Linked DNA regions of Homo sapiens. Changing the gene in region 1 together with any one later gene gives a genetic interaction. Each region holds a gene or a part of one and is shown in the gene's direction. Other genes may lie near its edges. The genes, in order: SETD1B, RTF1, HAPSTR1 and GEMIN5.

Region 1 (4,446 bases):
CTTCCTGTGAATGCTGCTACGTTGTTTTGTCTTCTCTATTTTTTTCCTCGTTGTGAGAAAAGACATTTAACCGTTGAAATGTGAAGGTGGAATCAGAGAGGGGCCCCGCGGGGGTCTGCAGAGGCCTCAGTGTGGCTGTGCGTGGCCCGTGTCCTGGAAGCCACCCGGACCTGGACGCAGGGCCAGGTGCTGTGGGAAGGATGGAGGCCCCCACGGCCTTGACCTCAGAACACTACGCCCTGAAAGCGCCCCTCACTGCCCGTGGGCACAGTGAGGAGACCCCACACCTTTCCCCACCCGAGCTGCAGCCTGTTCCTTCCCCAGAGGCCTGGGGCACCACTGACCCGGTGGACCCTGATGGAGCTAAGCTGTCCCAGGCAGGGGTCTCCGCTCTGGGCTTTCCCTGCCACCTCACACCCCAGCACCCCCTAAACCTTGGGTTCAATGTTTACTTTCTCATTCGGATGCCAGCAACGCGGGAGCCTCTCGGAGGCCCCAGTGCAGGTGAGGGGCGCTGAGAACGCGGGCAGCCACTCTCTTCTGCCCTTGCCTTCGCCCTGGGTGGGACAGGGCTCCCAAGGGCAGGCGGGTCCCCCAGTCCCGCCATTACGGGTTGTCAGACCGTCTGCGTGTGGCATTTTTTGGCTTATAAGCTTCACCCACTCACCCCCAACCCACACCCCACATCCCCCTGCCGGCAGCCCCTCAACCTAAGAAGGCCAGAGCATATTTATTTTCGGAGGGAGCAGATTACTTCTCCCAGAGAAAGGAAAATCTTGGAAAAGATTTAAAAACACAAATCTAAGCCTTGACGGTTTTTTTTTCCCTTTTGACCCCCTTCCCATCTCTTCAGAATTTATTCCCATGGCTTTTTTTTTTCTTGTGCGTGTATAAAATCAAAAGGAAGGGGAAAAAGGTTTTTGAAGTTCAGAACCAACTTCTGTATATAGAGGCTGCCGCAAAGGACTTTCTCTTGGGAACATTGTTTCTTGTAGAAACATGCGGGAAGACATTTTTTGCTCATTTCTTTGTACTTCCAAAAAAAAAGGAAAAAAAAGACAAAAGCAAGTCCCCCCGTACCCCAGAAAGCAGAGGAGGCGTGTAAATAATTTCTGGAAAGTGACTGTTGTGACCCGGAGTCCTCATCAAGATGAGCGCGCTCCATGAGGGAGCTGCTCCCACCCTGCGGACGCAGGCGGCCGGAGCCTCTGGTATCTCAGCTTGTGTCAAGCTTGTTATCATGTAAATTCTGTACAAAGAATTGTTATTTTTCTCTTTTTTGTTGTTGGTGGTTTTGTTGTGTGTTTTTTGTTGTTTTTTTTTTATTCCTTTCCCCCAGGCCCTCTCTATTTGAGACTGTGCCCGCCGGTTTCAAGATCAAGGAAATTGGTGGCAACAAGACACAGATGGGGTACCTGGGCACAGCGGCGAACTTCTCTTCCGTTTGCGGTTTTCTGCCTAATTGTGCAACTGAGGAAATAATTTATTTTTCACATGAGGAAATGCGTAGCTTGTAGAGACGGCTGATTCAAGTTACATGTACAGCCTCCAAAGGGCTGTCTCCATTCTGTCCCCTTCCCATAAAAGAAGTGGGGGTGTTCGAGAAGACCAGGGAAGGGACCCTTGCCTCACCCCTCCCCCTGGCCTCACCTTGCTCCCAGCCATCGTGCCCAGTGTTAACCTCGGCTGGCCTTCACTAAGGGGACTAGACCTCCCTCTCCCCAGGAGCCCCAGCCCCAGAGTGGTTTGCAATAATCAAGATATGTGTCGAGTCATTTTTCTTTCAACTCCCTCATTTTTCATTGAACAAATCTCTGCTTTTCAAGAGTTGGGGGTTTCTGCTATTTTTTGCTTTCTCTCCCTCCCCCTGCAAAGATGAGAACCAATGAGTTTTAGGGATGTTTGTGCGGGTAGACTCCATCATCCATATGTAACTTGTTTTGAAGAGAAGTGTTTCCGTTGTGTGTCTTGATGTAAATATTTGTTCATATTTTTGTGAATTCAATACTATGTACCATTGTATTATAGTAACTTTTATAAAGCAAACCATAAATATACTGACTTTTCTTACAGATACGCCGTCTCTCTTGCTCTCCTCTCTCCCTCTCCTCTTTATTCTTTCTTTCTGTTGGGAGCACATCCTGCTTCTGTGGAGGGTGGAGTGGTCCACTCAGACACTCAGATCAGCAGGGGTTTTTTTGTTTGTTTTTGAGACAGGGTCTCACTCTGTCACCTCAGGCTGGAGTGCAGTGGTGCAATCATGGCTCACTGCAGCCTTGACTTCCTGGGCTCAAGTGATCCTCCCACCTCAGCCTCCTGAGTAGCTGGGACTACAGGAGCACACCACCATGCCCAGCTAATTTTTAAGAAATTTTTCTGTAGAGACGGGGTCTCCCTATGTTGCCCAGGCTGGTTTCAAACTCCTGGGCTCAAGCAATCCTCCCACCTCAGCCTCCCAAAGTAGTGGGATTACAGATGTGAGCCACCGTGCCCAGCCTGAACTTGTAGGTGGGTTTTGTGAAATGGGCCAAATTATAGTCACCACTAGACCTTCCACAGCTTTTAAGTGTGATTTCTAGATTTTTTTCTTAAAACCTCAGGTTTCTGACTCATGAGGTCTGCAATGAAGGAAATAAGATCAGGTATCCTTTTACTATCACTAGAAGAACGTAGGTGGTTCCTCAGAAATGTTTAACACTTAAGGAGATGCCCCCCTGGTCTGCATTTGAGGGAGGAAAAAGGGCTGATAAAATAGTAGAAGTTGAGAAGAATTAAATCTATCCTGTATTCATGGCATTTCAGAGATGCTGTGCCCCAGTCAGTCTCAGCTCTGCTTGACCCAGTAGACGGGTGATAAAGGGCTTATAGTTGGCGTCCACGGTAAATGTCTCCAAGAAGACGTAAAACCTTAGCAAAAAGCAATATGCCTGAAAAGACGCTGTACGTCACTTCCTACTGGAGAAATGTGAATTATCCCAGGATGCCGTTTCCCCCTGTCAGGTTGGCAAATATTAAAAGGTGGAGGAAACCCAATTTGAGGGAGCAGGAGGCTGGGGTACTCTCGTGTGTCATTAGGGGAAGCCAAAAATCACTGCAACCTTTAGGAGGAAAAATACCTATTAGTAATCATTATTTAAAATGCACACGGCCGGCACGGTGGCTCACGCCTGTGATCCCAGCACTTTGGGAGGCCTAGGAGGGCAGATCACCTGAGGTCAGGAGTTCGAGCTAGCCTAGCCAACATGGTAAAACCCCATCTCTATTAAAAATACAAAAAAATTAGCCGAGTGTGGTGGTGCACGCCTGTAATCCCAGATACTTGGGAGGCTGAGGTGGGAGAATCGCTTGAACCCAGAAGGTGGAGGTTGCAGGGAGCCGAGATCATGCCACTGCACTCCAGCCTGGGCGACAGAGTGAGACCTCGTCTCAAAATAAAATGATCAAATGCACACAAAAGTCTTGGCTCCGTTGTTCCACTGTGAGGAATTGAGCCTGACAGATACAGTGGGCAACAATATGAAGAAGAGTGTTCTTCGCAGCCTCATTTCTGGTATCAACGAAACGAAGGGAGAGTAAATTGTCCGTTCACAGTGGGCTGCTTTTAGGAATTGTGCATCCAGACAGGTGGACACTCCCGTAAGTGGATTCATGGGAATAGAGGGCTGAGGTCCGGGCTGAGCCAGGAAAGAGAAGGAAGTGTCTGGCCATTAATTCAATCAACCAATATTTATTGAGCACCTTGTATGTGCCAGGTACTCTTCTAGGCTCTGGGGATAGGAATGAAGGAAACATACTGTTCTTGAGGGCGAGCCAGACAAATGTGAAAAGTAAGTGCAATAGTAAGGAGGAATAAAGCTAAGAGAAGGGGGTGTAGCTGAAGGAATATACAATTTTACCTTTATTATTTATTTTAGAGACAAGGTCTAGTTCTGTCACCCAGGCTGGAGTGCAGTGGCATGATCATAGCTCACTGCAGCCTCGATCTGCTGAGCTCAATGATCCCCCCACTTCAACCTCCTAAGCTGATCAGGGCCATAGGCACACTTTACCATACCAGCTAATTTTAAAAATTTCTTTTCTTTTTTTTTTTCTTGAGACAGAGTTTTGCTCTTGTTGCCCAGGCTAGAGTGCAATGGTACAATCTCGGCTCACTGCAACCTCCACCTGCCGAGTTCAAGCAATTCTCCTGCCTCAGCTTCCTGAGTAGGGATTACAGGGATTACTAGGATTACAGGCATGTGCCACCAAGCCCAGCTAATTTTGTATTTTTAGTAGAGATGGGATTTCTCCATGTTAAGCATGCTGGTCTCGAACTCCTGACCTCAGGGGATGTGCCCTCCTCGGCCTCCCAAAGTGCTGGGATTATAGGTGTAAGCCACCGCGCCAGGGCTTTTTCTTTCTTTCTTTTCTTTCTTTCTTTCTTTCTTTCTTTCTTTCTTTCTTTCT
Region 2 (5,372 bases), on another chromosome or scaffold:
TCAAGAAAAAACTAAAAACAGCCAAAAAGAAAGAAAAGAAAGAAAAGAAGAAAAAGCAAGAAGAGGAGCAAGAAAAGAAAAAACTGACACAGATTCAAGAATCTCAGGTAGGAGATTCAGTGTTCCTCATTGTCCAAAGAATAAACCTGTTTTGAGTGTGTGTGTGTGTGTGTGTGTGTGTGTGTGTGTAAAAGGTGGATTTATATTAATCAGCCTAAGTTTATAAGACTTGTGACATGGTTTCATTAATCTCTGGACATATCACCATTAGCTGTGCTGTTAAATCCTTAGCACTTTTTCCTTTGCTTTCCTTTTTCCTTTTCTTTTTTCTTTCTTCTTTCTTTTTCCCTTTTCTTCCCCTCCCTTCCTCCTTCCCCCTTCCCTTCCTCCTTCCCTTCCTCTTCCCTTTCCCTGGTCTCATTATGTTGCCCGGGCTAGAATACAGTGGCTATTCACTGGCACAGTCATAACACACTGAAGCCTCAAACTCCTAGTCTCAAGCAGTCCTCCTGAGTTGCTGAGACTACAGGCATATGCTACCGTGCCCGGCTTTCACTGAAGTCTGCATTTAAAAAGCAGCCCTCAACTGCAGTGACTCACATGTGTAATCCCAGCACTTTGAGAGGCCGAGGCAGACAGATCACTCAAGGCCAGGAGTTTGAGACCAGCCTGGCCAACGTGGCGAAATCCTGTCTCTACTAAAAATACAAAAATTAGCCTGGCGTGGTGGCTTATGCCTTTAATCCCAGCTACTCGGGGGGCTGAGGCACAAGAATTGCTTGAACCTCAGAAGCGGAGGTTGCAGTGAGCTGAGATCATGCCATGGCCCTCCAGCCTGGGCAGAAGAGCGAGGCTCTGTTTTAAAAAAAAAAAGCAGCCCACTAGTGAGTGACCATCCCTTAAGGAAAAGTTGGTAAACAACCTGTCCTAGGTAGCCAGATGCTTATGATGTTTACTTAGATGTATATCATCCTTTACTTGGTATAAATATAGCTGGGAAAATAATCTCTGTATTTATCATAAATGAGACTCCATCTCAGAAAAACAACAAAAAAAGATAATGTGGGGCTGAGTGTAGTGGCTTATGCCTGTAATCCCAACATTAGCTGTGTTGTAGTGTGTTCTTCCAGAAAGAGTTTATTCGGATAATTCTTGAACTTGGAATAGGCATTTTAGACAGGGCTTACTTTACTGCGCTATCCTCTTTGTCCACAAGAGGATGCTCTCTCCCCTTACATAAAAGCTCTAAGTTTTTGCAGCCCATATAGATTGATGTTGGAGGACTAAATGCATTAAGTAGGTTTAGAGAATCTTATCAGCTGTTGGTAAAAAGGGCCATTCTATATATCCTTCCCTTCCTAGGTAACATCCCACAACAAGGAACGGCGTTCCAAGCGGGATGAGAAACTAGACAAGAAATCTCAAGCCATGGAGGAGCTAAAAGCAGAGCGAGAAAAACGAAAGAACAGAACAGGTAAGCGAGGGAAATATAATGGCTACTTGTGTCTTTATATGATTTGACTTCCTGGTGTCCATTTTCATTTTGCCCTCTTGTTATATCTTTCTCATATAAAATTCCAGCACATACCCAGAATAGTATAAACATCCACAAACCCATCATCCAGCCACAGCAGTCAGCTCTTGGCCAGTCTTGTTAAATCTATAATCCTTTCATCAGATTATTTTAAAGCAAATACCAGCATTATTATATTTTAACCATAAATATTTCAGTATGTTCCTCTAAAAGATAAGTACTTTTGTTTTAAACCTAACTATAATACCATTATTACACCTAGAAATAACAATGAACTCTTTGTCAAATATCTAGTCAGTGTTCAAATTTTTCTATTTGTTTTGTAATTTAAAAAACAAGATTTTAAAAACATTTCTATTTGTTTTGTAATTTAAAAAACAAGACCACTTGAATCAGGATCTTAAAGTCCATACATTGTGATCTGTTAATACGTCCCTTAAGGCATTTAATCTGTATGTTTTCTTCCCCATCTCTTTGCCCTGCCTTGCAGCGTTATTTGCTGAAGGAACTGGGTCATTTGTCTTCTGGTTTCTCACATTGCTGACTACATCTCGTTTTTGTTGTTGAATGTGTTTCTGGTCCCTTGGGTTTCCTGTAAATGGTTAGTTAGAGCTACAGAATTGGTCAGATTTGGGTTTGTTCTGTTGTTGTCATTGTTGCTTGTTCTTGGGGAAGGCTGATTTTTAGGTAGTGGTATGTATTTCCATCAGGAGACACATGATATCTGACTGTCTCTCAGTTTGTGATGTTAACAATCCTGTCAGTTAGCTCTTACCACAATAATGTGAAGTAACAAACTAACCCCTGTTCTGCTCATGCATCTGAAGTTCAACTGCAATTCACCCTCCTGATGGCATGAGTTCAGCTGGAATTATCTCCAAGCTATAGGTGGTAGCCAGGTCTGTTCTACCTCTCTCTTCCTCCCTGGGCCAGTAAACCCCGAGCACTTTTATATGGTGATGACAGAAGTATAAAAGGGGCAAGCAAAGACACACATGCCTCTTAGGGCCTAGACTTGGAATTGGCATAGTGTCACTATGGGGCCGGGAAGAATGACTAAGGCATATAGCAAAGGACATGGGTATAGAGATGGGTGAAGAATTAGAAAGGATACTGTGGGGGCCGGTCGTGGTGCCTCACAATTGTAATCCTAGCACTTTGGGAGGCCAAGGTGGGCGGATCACCTGAGGTCAGGAGCTTGAGACCAGCCTGGCAAACATGGTGAAACCCCATCTCTACAAAAAATACAAAAATTAGCTGGCCATGGTTGTGCATGCCTGTAATCCCAGCTCCTCAGGAGGCTGAGGCAGGAGAATCCCTTGAACCCGGGAGACGGAGGTTGCAGTGAGCTGAGATTCCGCCACTGCGCTCCAGCCTGGACAACAGAGTGAGACTCAATCTTAAAAAAAAAACAACAAAAGATAATGTGGGGCTGAGTGTAGTGGCTCACGCTTGTAATCCCAGCACTTCGGGAGGCTGAGGCTGGAGGATTGCTTGAGGCCAGGAGTTCAAGACCGGCCTGGCCAACATGGTGCAAGCCCATCTCTACTAAAAATAATAAAATTAGCCAGGCCAGGCACGGTGGCTCACACCTGTAATCCCAGCACTTTGTGAGGTCAGAGCAGGCAGATCACGTGAGGTCTGGAGTTGGAGACCAGCCTGGCCAACAGAGTGAAATCCCGTCTCTACTAAAAGTACAAAAATTAGTCAGGCGTGGTAGCACATGCCTGTAATCCCAGCTACTTGTGGGGCTGAGGCACTGAAAATCACTTGAACCCGGGAGGTGGAGGTTGCAGTGAGCCAAGATCCTACCATTGCACTCCAGCCTGGGCAACAAGAGTGAGACTCTGTCTCAAAAAAAAAGAAAAAGAAATAATAACGTGTTCTGTCCTAGTAGCCACTGATGGTCATTACCTAGATAATTTAATTCATTAGGAGTTGCAAAATGGTGATATTTCGAATCTGTCATTCTTTCCTCATTCATTATCTAGCCTGCTTCTATAAAGAGAAACCTTTTTTTTTTGAGACGGAGTCTCGCTCTGTCGCCCAGGTTGGAGTGCAGTGGCGCGATCTCGGCTCACTGCAAGCTCCGCCTCCTGGGTTCACACCATTCTCCTGCCTCAGCCTCCTGAGTAGCTGGGACTACAGGCACCTGCCACCACGCCCAGCTAATTTTTTGTATTTTTAGTAGAGAAGGGGTTTCACCATGTTAGCCAGGATGGTCTTGATCTCCTGACCTTGTGATCCGCCCGCCTCGGCCTCCCAAAGTGCTGGGATTACAGGTGTGAGCCACCGCACCCGGCCTAAAGAGAAACTTCTAATCAGCTATTTAGTTACCCCCCAGGCACATTTTGAACAGGAAAGGCAAGATAAATGCTTGATTAATTTTCCTTTCGTTTACCAGTTTTTGAAAGAATGAGATAGTTCCTGGCAAGGTACAGTGGCTCACATGTGTAATTCAAGACCAGCCTGGGCAACATAGTGAGACCCTGTTTCTGCAATATTTTAAAGAGAGAGAGAGAGATAGTTTTTAGCAACTTCCAAAGATGACTGATGGGTTTTATTTATTTTGAATATCCTTGTGAACTCATCATTTTTAACGTGCTTTATGTGTTTTAATCCATTGCAGTTATTTTTCCTTCCTTCCATCCATCTTTTTCTCTCTCTCTTTTTTGAGACAGGATCTCTCTCTGTTACTCAGTCTGGAGTGCAGTGGCGCGATCTCGGCTCATTGCAACCTTCACCTCCCGGGTTCAAGCGATTCTCCCACCTCAGCCTCTTGAGTAGCTGAGACTACATGCGTGCACCACCACCTAATTTTGTTTTGTATTTTTAGTAGAGATGGGGTTTAGCCATGTTGGCCAGGGTGGTCTTGAACTCCTGACCTTAAGTGATCCGCCTTGCCTTGGCCTCCCAAAGTGCATGAGCCAACACTCCCAGCCTAAAATTTTTTTATATTATTCTTTTTTCTTTTTAAATCGTAAGTACACAGATTAACCTGCCATCTTAGATTAATGGTAGCATATTATACACAGTTTTCTCTCTCTTTTTTTTTTAGCCACCACTCCTGGTTTGTTTTTTGTATTTTTGGTAGAGATGCAGATTCACCATGTTGCCCAGGCTGGTCCCAAACCCCTGAGCTCAAGTGATCTACCCACCTCGACCTCCCAAAGTGCTGGGATTACAGGCATGAGTCACCATGCCTGGCCACGTTCCTTTTTTTTTTTTTGAGATGGAGTCTCGCTCTGTTGCCCAGGCTGGAGTGCAGTGGTATACAGTCTTGGCTCACTGCAACCTCCGCCTCCCGGGTTCAAGCGATTCTCCTGCCTCAGCCTCCCAAGTAGCTGGGATAACAGGTGCCGGCCACAATGCCTGGCTAATTTTTGTATTTTAGTAGAGACAGAGTTTCACCATGTTGACCAAGCTGGTCTCGAACTCCTGACCTCAAGTGATCCACCTGCCTCTGCCTCCCAAAGTGCTGAGATTACAGGCGTAAGCCACCGCACCCGTCCCCACGTTCCTTTTTTATAGCTGCATAGTAGTTCATTGGTAGATGTACCAGTGGTGATTTAGCCACTCTCCTATTTTAAATTTTCCTCAGAAGCTTCTGAAGTCATCATGAGTCTTTCCCCCTCTTTCCTCCCCATAGTCAAGTGTCTTGAGTGCCATAAAAGAGAACTGTCAGTAGTGTTGGTGACCCTTTCTGCCCACCTAGTATCAATCTTCCAGCCCTTTTTTCATCTGCTGGGGCCTGACATTTGGCACCTGAATAATTTTAACTCTGTGTTTTAACTCATTTCTGTATATACCCCAAGTTAGCACAATCCAGTCTAGAGAG
Region 3 (5,118 bases), on another chromosome or scaffold:
TCTTCTGCAGGGAGAGCAGCCAGGGGGATTGGTTGGATCAGTGCAGAAAGGAATGGGGGCACCTAGAGTGCGGAGTTGAGCACCTCAGAAGGGAGGTGTGGCCCTCAGGACATTGTCAGCATGTGCGATGATAGTGGAGGCCATGGATTTGAGAACATTTCAGAGAATATTTGATGGAGGGGAACGCCAAGGGGAATGTAATAGATTTGTGATAGGAGGCAGAGACTTTTCAACTTAAAATTCAAATTTAAACTACATTTTTAGGGAGTTCATGATTAGAAAGAATGGGCCCCTGTCAAATGAAACCTCTAAGCTTACTTGAAAATCTTATAAGTCCTATTCTTTGAAAATTAATTGATAGTCAAGCAATAACAGATCCCTAGGTGAGGAGAGAATAGTGGAAGGGGAAATTCCTAAGGCAGAAGATCACTGCCAGTGACGGTAGGTTTTTAAAAATGCAACACTGTGTTTGGTGTTTCCTGGCCTGACTCATACCTTTCACAGGTTTATCCTGAATGTTTAGGAGTGGAATGTAAGTTTGGCTCTTTAACTGTGTAAGAGTTTAAGGAAAGGAATAAGTATCCATGAGTGCTGGGTATATTCTGGATTCAGTAAAGTAACTCTTTTGTTTTTGAGACGGAGTTTCGCTCTTGTCACCCAGGATGGAGTGCAGTCTCGGTTCTTTGCAACCACCGCCTCCCGGGTTCAAGCGATTCTCCTCCTTAGCCTCCCGAGTAGCTGGGATTACAGGCGCCTGCCACCACGCCGGGCTAATTTTTGTATTTTTTAGTAGAGACGAGTTTTCACCATGTTGGCCAGGCTGGTCATGAACTCCTGACCTGAAGAGATCTGCCCGGCCTCCCAAAGTGCTGGGATTACAGGTGTGAGCCACTGCGCCTGGCCTTGGATTCAGTAACTCTTAATGTTGAAAACAAAGCAGCAGGATTCTTCACAACCCTCTCCCCTCCCCACTTCCATGAAGGATTAGAGAGGCTCATGATTGAGGCTGTCCTGAAGGATATCTACCAAATACATTCCAGACCTTAGGTGATCACATAGCCTGATTTGTCCAGGGTAGACTGACTTTGTACCTCATGTCCCAGTAGAAATTTTAACAGTGACTCTTTTCGGGCTCAACAGTAATCTGTTTTGGATGGCAAGTTATGTGATCACCTTATCTAGAGGGGATGTTGGAACAAGCCCACCTAGGCCTGGAAGTGATTTCTGGCTCTCCTGAATACATCACACACATACACACTCATCAGAGGGGTCTGTTGGAATGGTAACTTTGGGTAACCAAAAATGTCTTGTCTTTAAAGCAAATGTCTCCTGTCCTTATCTGTAAATTTTGTGCAGTACCTACCTCATAGATGGGAGAATTTAATGAGATATTTGTACACCTAGCACGGTGGTTGACACGTAGTAACTTTTAGTAATTGGTAGTTACCAATATTGTAGATATTGGTAGTATTACCAATAAAATATATGTCAAGGCCAGATGATATGTTTATCCAGAATAAAACTTAATTGCTTACTAGTAATCCCTTATAAAGGAAATAGGCAGACATGCTTTGACATTGTGACAACATGGAAAGTAAGTGGGTTGCTTTCAAAAGGGTTACATAATTGAGCAACTCTAAAACCTTTTTTCTTCTTCCTAGGTCTTAGTGGTGCAATGGCTAGTATAAGCGTGCGTTCGAGTACCCCAGGCTCTCCTACACATGTAAGCAGTGGATCGAATGCTAGTCGAAGGAGAAATGGACTCCATGATGTCGATTTGAACACTTTCATATCAGAAGAAATGGCACTCCACTTGGACAATGGTGGAACTAGAAAGCGTACCTCAGCCCAGTGTGGCGATGTCATTACAGACTCACCAACCCATAAACGCAACAGAATGATCTAAACTGCAAACATTTTCACACCCACCATGCTGCTTGAAAGCCACTTGATCCTCAACATATACTATAATTGCAAAGGAAACATGAGGCCATCTTCCCTTGTTCACTGTTTAAGACAAGTGAATTCTATAGTGGTTGCCATAAAAGGAAGTTCTAGGTATTTATAGTAGATGCCTCTTGTAATTATGGCTTTCTTAAAACTATAATCCTAGCAGAGGACATCAGATATTGTGTAGTCGTTAGCAAGATCATCATAGGCAAACATATATCCGTTCCAAGGCTAAAAGTGACCTTAACTGTATTTATTCTCAAAGGGAAAGGAAATATCAGATGTTTATTTGGTTATAGAATGCTTTTTTTTTTTTTGGGTCCATTTCCTGCTGTGTTGAGTATTTTGCTTCAACAGTATTGCCAGGTTCCTAAAATTGTCTAAAAACATGATTTGGCTTCCATTTTTGCAGCTGCACTGTACCATGCACCTGGTTTCTATATAGTAACAGTGTGCAATTCTAATTATTGGACTGTGCCCTGTTTTTAGTTTTCAAATCAATTTCTAATTCTGGTGATTGTGTGATGTAAAGAGGTGCTATGATGGTCATGCAATTAATACTAAATATTGAATCAATGCCCAGAGCTTTATTGGATTCACTTTGTGTGTGTTAGTGCTCTAAAGTAGCAGTATTATTATTAAACTGTCCCCAGAGTAACCCTGTAGGCCTAAAGTACTCAGTTTTAAGACAAACACTACTTCCCATGCGGGGTACTTTCCTTATGGTAAATGTAAACATGTAGACTGCATTCGAGGTGACCTAAAGTAGAGAGGTCATGAACTTTGAGAATGGGCTTCCTTTTTGGTTCAGTATTAGTGAGAGGGAGAGGGAGATGGATGGTGGGGTAGGTTTTCTAGTCTATCATTTTACATTTTTCATGGAGTCCCTGCTTAGTGCAGTTTCCATTGGAATGGGTGGAAGATGATAAAGCTCTCTTTTTTATCTACTAATAATGTGATTGCAACTTAAAATAGCAAAACCCAACTCTCCCTGTCCCTCCAATCCCTCTCCTAAAAAGTTCAGTTTGGAATCTCATTCTGGAAAAGATGGAATCGCATGGAGATTCTCTAGCTGTTAGGTAGACCTAAATAAAAAGTTCTCAATAGATTCCTCTTTTGAGTAAATATAAGACCTCTTGTAGCTACAATGTTTTAGAGCATGTTTCATCTTCATTTTTAATATCCTGAACTGAATGATAGTGTTTTTTTAGATGAAGAACTGATGTCAGCCTGCCAGGTACTGTAATTTATTCTATCATATTATTATATTATATATCAAGTAGGACAGTGAAAAATGTTTCCTTGCAAACTTGTAGTCCAGTATCAGTTACTTCCTATTTTTATCCTTAAAAGACCATTGCAAATCAGTGTAAGGGTTTTTCCAGTAATTACTCACAGCACTTTGTTAAAGTTTGCAATTTCTTCAGCCATTTAATAATATCTTTCTGTGAAGAAACTTTGCTGAGTTAACCATAAATGTTCATTCATTGACTGGGTGGGATGTGAATGGAATGTTAGAAATGTTGTGTGAATTGAAGTTCTGTATTCATTATAGATGTAGCCCTTATTTAAAAAAGTGAATTCCATACTAAAACTAGGAATGAAAGTGAGAGATTTCTAAACTTTTGCGAAAGTGGGTCATTTTTTGTTTGACTATAATAGCAGGAAGAATTATAGCAATCTGTCATTTTACCTGAAACAGACAAGCCTATGTATTATGAATACTTTCAAGCTTCCCTTTGGAATATACAAGACATGCGTTTGGAGTTACCTTTGTTTTTCTATCGTAAATTTAGATTCTGGAATTGGGGTTTGGTGGTGCAATGTGTTGCTCACAAGTGGCCAGAACTCCTATTCCTAAAAGGATTTTGAGATGGAGGAACACATATTTAATTCCCCTTTATGCCTTGGTTCTTGCTCCTCTTTCCACGTTGGATAACAATTTTTTGGTTGTTTTGTTTAAGTTGGTGCTCTGAAGCTTAATCTCAGTACCCTTTACTCTGAATTGTCAAATTTTGATAAAACGTGCCATTTTCTTTGGTAAGAGAAAGCAGGTCTTAATGTCTGCCAGAACACAATTTATATGCCTTATTGGCTTCATTAAACTTTTAGAAAACTTTAGCATTTGTTACTTTTTTCCATTGCGTTTACTTTCAAATGCACCTAATGAATTTGTCACCCAGTCGCAACTTTTCCCTTCTCTGTCCCATTGCTTTCTCCTTTCCCCGACGCACAGAATAAACATGAAGCTCAGCAGTAGAAGCGTAATGATTTCCCTCAGGAAAAACTTCTGACAGCTAGGTTTTTCAAGGGTTTCCCTGTGCTAGCTGAGATGCAAAACAAATCATGGAAGATTGCATACCTGTGTGGTATTTTAAAAACAAGTTGACTTTTTCAGTTTCTTGAACGGTTAAGGGTGGATTTAAAAACTAGACAGTTTAGTTTTGGGGAACAGAAGCTCTCTTCGTCTTAAGCCAGATTCTCTGATTCTTTTAGACGTCATAGCTCCTTAGTTCTGCTCCTGTCGCCCTAACTTGGCATGGGCAAGTTGAAGTTCATCCTTAGACTGCAGCGTTCTGAGCATGGCTGAAGTATTAAAATGTTTAATATTTTTTAGAGCAAAATTGTTGGAAAGCATTTGGCTGAATCTAAAGACCTGCAGTCAGATTCTTCAATGTGGTTTACCCAACTGGAGTAGTGATAAACACCTTAATCATAAAATGAATAAAAACAAAAAAACCATGGGGCTTGTCTGCAGTTTTGTTTTGGTCATCACATCTGAATAACTTTTTGATGCAATCAAATGAAGTTTAGGCTTTTAAAAAAGAATTAGCTTTCTAAATGTTTTTTTCTAAGGGCTACTGGAACTCATTAAACTCGAATAATTGTGGCTTTGGGCCTGAAGATTTCCATTCAACAGTGAAAACTGGCTAACTTCCTTTATAGTGAGAGGGATGGCCAACATCCAACCCAGAGGGCTAGTCAGCCTCAGAGGCCAGTGCAAGACGCCAAGAGATGATTTTGAAATGGGGCCATAAGTTTAGAAAATTATGAACAGAATGATTGAGTTTTTGGCCTGGCTACTACCTCTAGTGGTGACTACGTCAGCAGATTAATCTCATTGCATTTTACTTTATGTAGTATGTTGTAACCTGGTGCTTCATTCAT
Region 4 (5,372 bases), on another chromosome or scaffold:
TCAGAAACCTTAATCAAGAAGAGAAAAGCTCGTTCCTTGCTTCCCCTGAGTACAAGCCTGGACCACAGATCCAAAGAGGAGCTTCATCAGGACTGTTTGGTACTAGCAACTGCAAAGCACTCCAGAGGTACAAAAATGTACTTCCTTGGCCCATCCATAGTCTTCCGGGACTGGTATATAAGGGATGTTTACTTATTTATTAAATGAATGCCCAAAGAAATGTCTAAATTGTTTTCTGTATTTTTATGTTCTCCAGCTCTCCCTTCCCTCCACATCCCTATACCCCTACACCTTGCTGCCAAACTCCCCATTGTGACCCACCGTCAGCACTGCCATGGCTTTGAAATGTAGCGCTCTGCTTTTATTCTAAATCTAATTCCTCCCAGCCATCTGTGTGCCAGAATTGGTATGTTGGCCTAAGTATCTCAGCATGAATAAACTCCTTCAACTCTTTTCCCCATTGAACAGTATCCTATGGAGAAAAAAATCTTTTTTTCTTATTGGAAATATGCTCATAATATGGCATTTTTTTAGAAAAAAATTTGATGGAAGCTTTTGCTTTGTAAGTTTTGTTTTGAAGGGTTGTTTTATTTTTGTTTTTCAAAGTCTTCATTTAATGTCCACTATTTTGATATTTTAATAACTTTATTTTTTAAATTTGAAGTTTACATGTGGAAAAGGGATGCACATAATAAATAAAATTGATGCTTAAGGGGCTGAAGCAGAAGGATCACTTGAGCTCACTTTAAGGCCAGCCTGGGCAACATAGTGAGACCCTCTCTCTATTTAAAAAAAAAAATTTTTTTTTAATTTTTTTTTCAAAGTAAATCTTCCTCCCAGTCCTCTGTTTCTCCTCCCCAGGAATGGAGGACCATCCTCCCTCCCGGTTACTGTCTCCCACTACCCTAACAAGGGTAGTCACTATCCTGGGCTTCCATTTGTTTCTTTCTTTTGAATTTTTGAACTGTTTTGTCTGTATTGCATAATCAAACTATTATCAGTTTCTTGTGTCTTGATGGAGATGTTTTATGCTTTTATTATATACATAGCCTTTTTGGAGCTTTGTGATGACTTCCTATAACTTACATAGTTAACCTAGTTTCACATTATTTTCCTTACTGGAAAATTACTCAGTTGACTTTTTTTTTGAAGCAAAGGATGAATATTGAATCCCCTTGTGGTAAGTCCCAGTGAATATTAAGGACTTTCTTTTGCTTATTAATATTGTTTTGCTTGTTTTTTACTGCACTTAAATATGTTCTGATTTGGGGTTCACTTTTAACATTTTAAGTGTTTTTGTGTTTTGCTCCCTTTGTAACTGCAGGAGTCTCTGTTAGAGCTCTGATTCTCTCAGTGTCTGAAGTGGGTGTTCCAAACATATATTCGGAAGTTATTGGAGAGAAAACTGTAATCAATGTAATGACTTCATCTGATTTTTTTGCCTTTTTAAATTAACAGAGCTGAATGAAGATGTGTCTGCTGATGTTGAGGAAAGATTTCATCTGGGGCTTTTCACAGACAGGGCTACCCTGTATAGAATGATTGATATTGAAGGTGAGACAAATCCAGTCAACATAATCTCATCCATCTTTATACTTTCCCAACATTTTGTGTGCACCTCTTTGATGGCTGTCATCCTGTGATATTATAATGGTTAGTTTTACGTGTCAGCTAACTAGGTTTTGAGCTCCCTGATTTACATATTGATACAACCCTTGCATCATCATAGGATCCTAAACATACAGCATTCACTCTGAGTACATGTGAAGGTGTGGGAGTGTACAGTGACCAAGTGGGCTTCAGATCTTACTGTAATCACTCTGGTAGGTGACACCCATCAGAGAATGACTGCATATTTTAGGAGCTCACTTTCTCTTCTATCTTGCCTTTCTTTTCCTACAAGTCAGTAACAGATGTTTCTGAAACACCTTCCAAACATTATCTCTCTTTCAAACAGGAAAAGGTCACTTAGAAAATGGCCACCCTGAGTTATTTCACCAGCTTATGCTTTGGAAAGGAGATCTCAAAGGTGTTCTCCAGACTGCAGCAGAAAGAGGGGAGCTGACAGACAACCTTGTGGCTATGGCACCAGCAGGTATGGTTTTTGTTTGTTTGTTCTTTTCAACAAAAGCTCTATCATCTCTAGGATACGTCCACTAAAGATGGCTCTTAGCACAGTCTTAAGCTTGAAATCACTTACAAATAGATACAAAGCAATAGACAGCAATAGACAAACTAATAAATCCAACCCAACCCCTTTGAAAAAAAGCAGGTCACTGACACTTTAATTGGCAAAAGCATAATTGGTGAGAACTTCTTGAAGGACAATTTGGCCATGTCTAGTAAATTTTAAAAGATATAATGGCACAAGTCTGTAGTCCCCAGCTGCTCAGGAGGCTGAGGCAGGAGGATTGCTTAAGGCTAGGCGTTCAGACCTATAGCGCTCTGTTAATTGTGCCTGTGAATAGCCAGTGTATTCTAGTCTGGGCAACATCATGAGACCTTGTCTCTTTAAAAAAAAAAAAGGCTGGGTGTGGTGATTCCTGATTCATGCCTGTAATACCAGCATTTCGGGAGGCCGAGGTGGGCAGGTCACTTGATCCCAGGAGTTTGAGACCAGCCTAGGCAACATGGCAAAAGCCCATCTCTACAAAAAAATTAAAAAATTATCTGGGCATGGTGACATGTACCTGTAGTCCCCGCTACTCGGGAGGCTGTGGTGGGAGGATCACCTGAGCCCGGGGAGGTTAAGGCTGCAGTGAGCCATTATTGTGCTACTGCGCTCCAGCCTGAGCCACAGAGTGAGACCCTGTCTCAAAAAACAATAAAAGGAAAGGGAAAAAAAAAAAGCACGTAGTCATGTTACCTTTGGCTCATCAGTTATGATTATAGGAATTTAACTGTGCTCACACATTCCTTTCTGTATCTTTTCAACTTTGTACTGTTTTGTTTGTGTTACATAATCAAACAATTGATGCTTCAGAATGTGTAGATGAAGCAGATGATCCATAATGGCAGCTGAATTGGTATCTAAATGTTCTGCTGAATGCATTGACGAAAACAAGGCTTTTTCAACCCAAATGTACTGGGTATTGTTTTTACTTTTTCTTCAACTGTTTTTTTAACCACCATCTTTTATTTTTTCAGCTGGCTACCATGTGTGGCTATGGGCTGTGGAAGCTTTTGCCAAACAGCTGTGTTTTCAGGATCAGTATGTCAAGGCTGCTTCTCACCTACTTTCCATCCACAAAGTGTATGAAGCGGTGGAGCTGCTCAAGTCAAACCATTTTTACAGGTCTGTGTGGTCCTAGAGTTGGGATAATACTTGGACATAATGTGAAAATAACCTAAACTTCTCTATTGTTAAAGTAACATAAATAGAAGAAACAGTCCTCCTGCTTCAGCCCCCTGAGTAACTGGGACTACTCAGGAGGTGCATGCCACCACATCCAACTAATTTTTTAGTTTTTTGTAGAGACGGAGTCTTGCTGTGTTGTCCAAGCTGATTGCCAACTCCTGGGCTCAAGCGATCCTCGTGCCTCAGCCTCCCAAAGTGCTGGGATTACAGGCATGAGCCACCATGCTTGGCCAAGATTTTCTTTTTGTTCTACCCTGCTTTGGTTTTGTTATCTTCCTTTAGAGAGTGTTAAACTTTGTTTTGGTAAGTAGTAAAGTTGTGTATCAGCTTGATCTTTTCATGGCTTGTTTTTAAACTTCGTTAGGGCAAGTTTATCATATTCTAGAATTACCTCCTACATTTTGATATCTTTCTTGAATGCCTTATGCATTCAACAAATCAAAACTCAGATGTCTCCAAGTCCTGAGTAAGCTCTGGGAATTGTTCAGCTTACAGTTACCTAGTCATTCTTTGTTTAGACTTAAGGAGTTTCCTTTACATACGTGGCTTTTAATTTAGCCAAAGACTCAATGGGATCTCCAGGCAGAGTTGTGGATGTCTTTCTCTGGACAGCTTCCTCCTTCCTAGTATCCTGCCCCTCAGATTTCCATTGTTTCCTCTTCTCAACTCAGAGACTGCTGAGGTTTTGCTCAGGTTTTCCTTAGGAAAATGGCTTTGGGCAGAAAGCCAGTGCCAAGATAGGGCTCCCATCATTTGTTTCTGTTCTCTTAGGGCTGACCATCCTATGCTGCCTGTTACCTGGTATCTAAAAACAGTTGTTTCAGCCATTTTGTCCAGTTTTTTAGTTTTATGGCAGAAAGGTAAGTCTGGTCCCAGTTACTCCATCATGGCTGGAAGTAGAAGTCCCAAAATACTTTCAAAATATTGCTCTCTCTAGATCACTTTAATCTAATAAAACACTTTTTTCCCAGCTACAACTTTATGTTGGCTACAACTCAGCAGTTGTATGTCATTTGAAAAATATTTGTTTACTGAGTTGTTCAGATCTTCCAAATGTTAACATATCTTATTATAAAATACCCAAAAATACCACATTCCTTACTATCACCATCAGTCTCATCAGAAAATTCTAACTTATGGGAAACTCAGGCACACAAGTGGTAGGTACAAGTTTTCTAAAATTCTAATTTTTGCTAGAAAACTCGCATTTTATCATTAGTAACAAATACTGTTGGTTGTTTTTAATGAAGTGATAGGCCTACTTTGTTCATTTTTGAGAAAAACATCTGCCAAATACCCAACACTGAATAACTGTTATTTATGTTAGTCATTTTTTTTTTTTTTAGAAGAAAGAAGGTTCTATGAAAAAGCAGCCAGTTTAGCTTGTAATTTGTTCATACAGGTGTTACCTAGAGACAACCATTCTACTTTGGAATGCAGCAGAGAACACAAAATGTTCTTCCCATTTGTCACACAGAATATTAAAGTGTTTTGGACTTGACGGATTTAGTAAAATTTGTAATTTTTACTGCTTCATTAAGGGCATTCTTCCTTTTTTTCCACTGTAAGAGCCACCGCCTTCCTTCTTAGATGCCAGGTTTCCCAATCACTGCTTTGGCACAATCAGTGCAAATGTCAACACATTTTTTTTTTTTTAATAAAAAAGCACATAACTGACTCTTAGCATTGTTACGAAAATAGTTTTAACCTCATGAACCCTCTGAAAGGTTCTTGAGGACCCCCTAGGAATCCACAGACCACAATTTAAGAACTGCTGATCTAAGTGAAGAAACGAATGCAGCATATGTTTCTAATTTGTCTATATAATGCAAGTGCAGTTTTTAAAGGAAGTTGGAACAATAAGACAACACAAAAGGGACAGTTTGTCCTGTCTTACAGCCCCTCCTAGGACCATACACAGAGGAGCCTTTTCAGATTGGCTAAAGGGTCTGTTCTTGCCTTTAGGGAAGCTATTGCGATTGCCAAGGCCCGGCTGCGCCCGGAGGACCCAGTC

The links.
Region 2: changes in SETD1B (region 1) and RTF1 together harm fitness more than expected from each alone (negative genetic interaction), as found in Homo sapiens cells (one large-scale study listed by BioGRID).
Region 3: changes in SETD1B (region 1) and HAPSTR1 together harm fitness more than expected from each alone (negative genetic interaction), as found in Homo sapiens cells (one large-scale study listed by BioGRID).
Region 4: changes in SETD1B (region 1) and GEMIN5 together harm fitness more than expected from each alone (negative genetic interaction), as found in Homo sapiens cells (one large-scale study listed by BioGRID).

Annotation. Positions count from the first base shown.
Region 1 is NC_000012.12:121,830,583-121,835,028, forward strand, and holds the end of SETD1B (histone-lysine N-methyltransferase SETD1B), read left to right. Parts: 3' UTR 1-2,074; downstream 2,075-4,446. UniProt on the Homo sapiens protein: Histone methyltransferase that catalyzes methyl group transfer from S-adenosyl-L-methionine to the epsilon-amino group of 'Lys-4' of histone H3 (H3K4) via a non-processive mechanism.
Region 2 is NC_000015.10:41,464,779-41,470,150, forward strand, and holds part of RTF1 (RNA polymerase-associated protein RTF1 homolog), read left to right. Parts: coding exon 1-107; intron 108-1,362; coding exon 1,363-1,474; intron 1,475-5,372. UniProt on the Homo sapiens protein: Component of the PAF1 complex (PAF1C) which has multiple functions during transcription by RNA polymerase II and is implicated in regulation of development and maintenance of embryonic stem cell pluripotency.
Region 3 is NC_000016.10:9,115,007-9,120,124, forward strand, and holds part of HAPSTR1 (HUWE1-associated protein modifying stress responses 1), read left to right. Parts: intron 1-1,661; coding exon 1,662-1,906; 3' UTR 1,907-5,118. UniProt on the Homo sapiens protein: Acts as a central player within a network of stress response pathways promoting cellular adaptability. The E3 ligase HUWE1 assists HAPSTR1 in controlling stress signaling and in turn, HUWE1 feeds back to promote the degradation of HAPSTR1.
Region 4 is NC_000005.10:154,899,262-154,904,633, reverse strand, and holds part of GEMIN5 (gem-associated protein 5), read left to right. Parts: intron 1-4; coding exon 5-127; intron 128-1,458; coding exon 1,459-1,554; intron 1,555-1,957; coding exon 1,958-2,095; intron 2,096-3,147; coding exon 3,148-3,295; intron 3,296-5,323; coding exon 5,324-5,372. UniProt on the Homo sapiens protein: The SMN complex catalyzes the assembly of small nuclear ribonucleoproteins (snRNPs), the building blocks of the spliceosome, and thereby plays an important role in the splicing of cellular pre-mRNAs.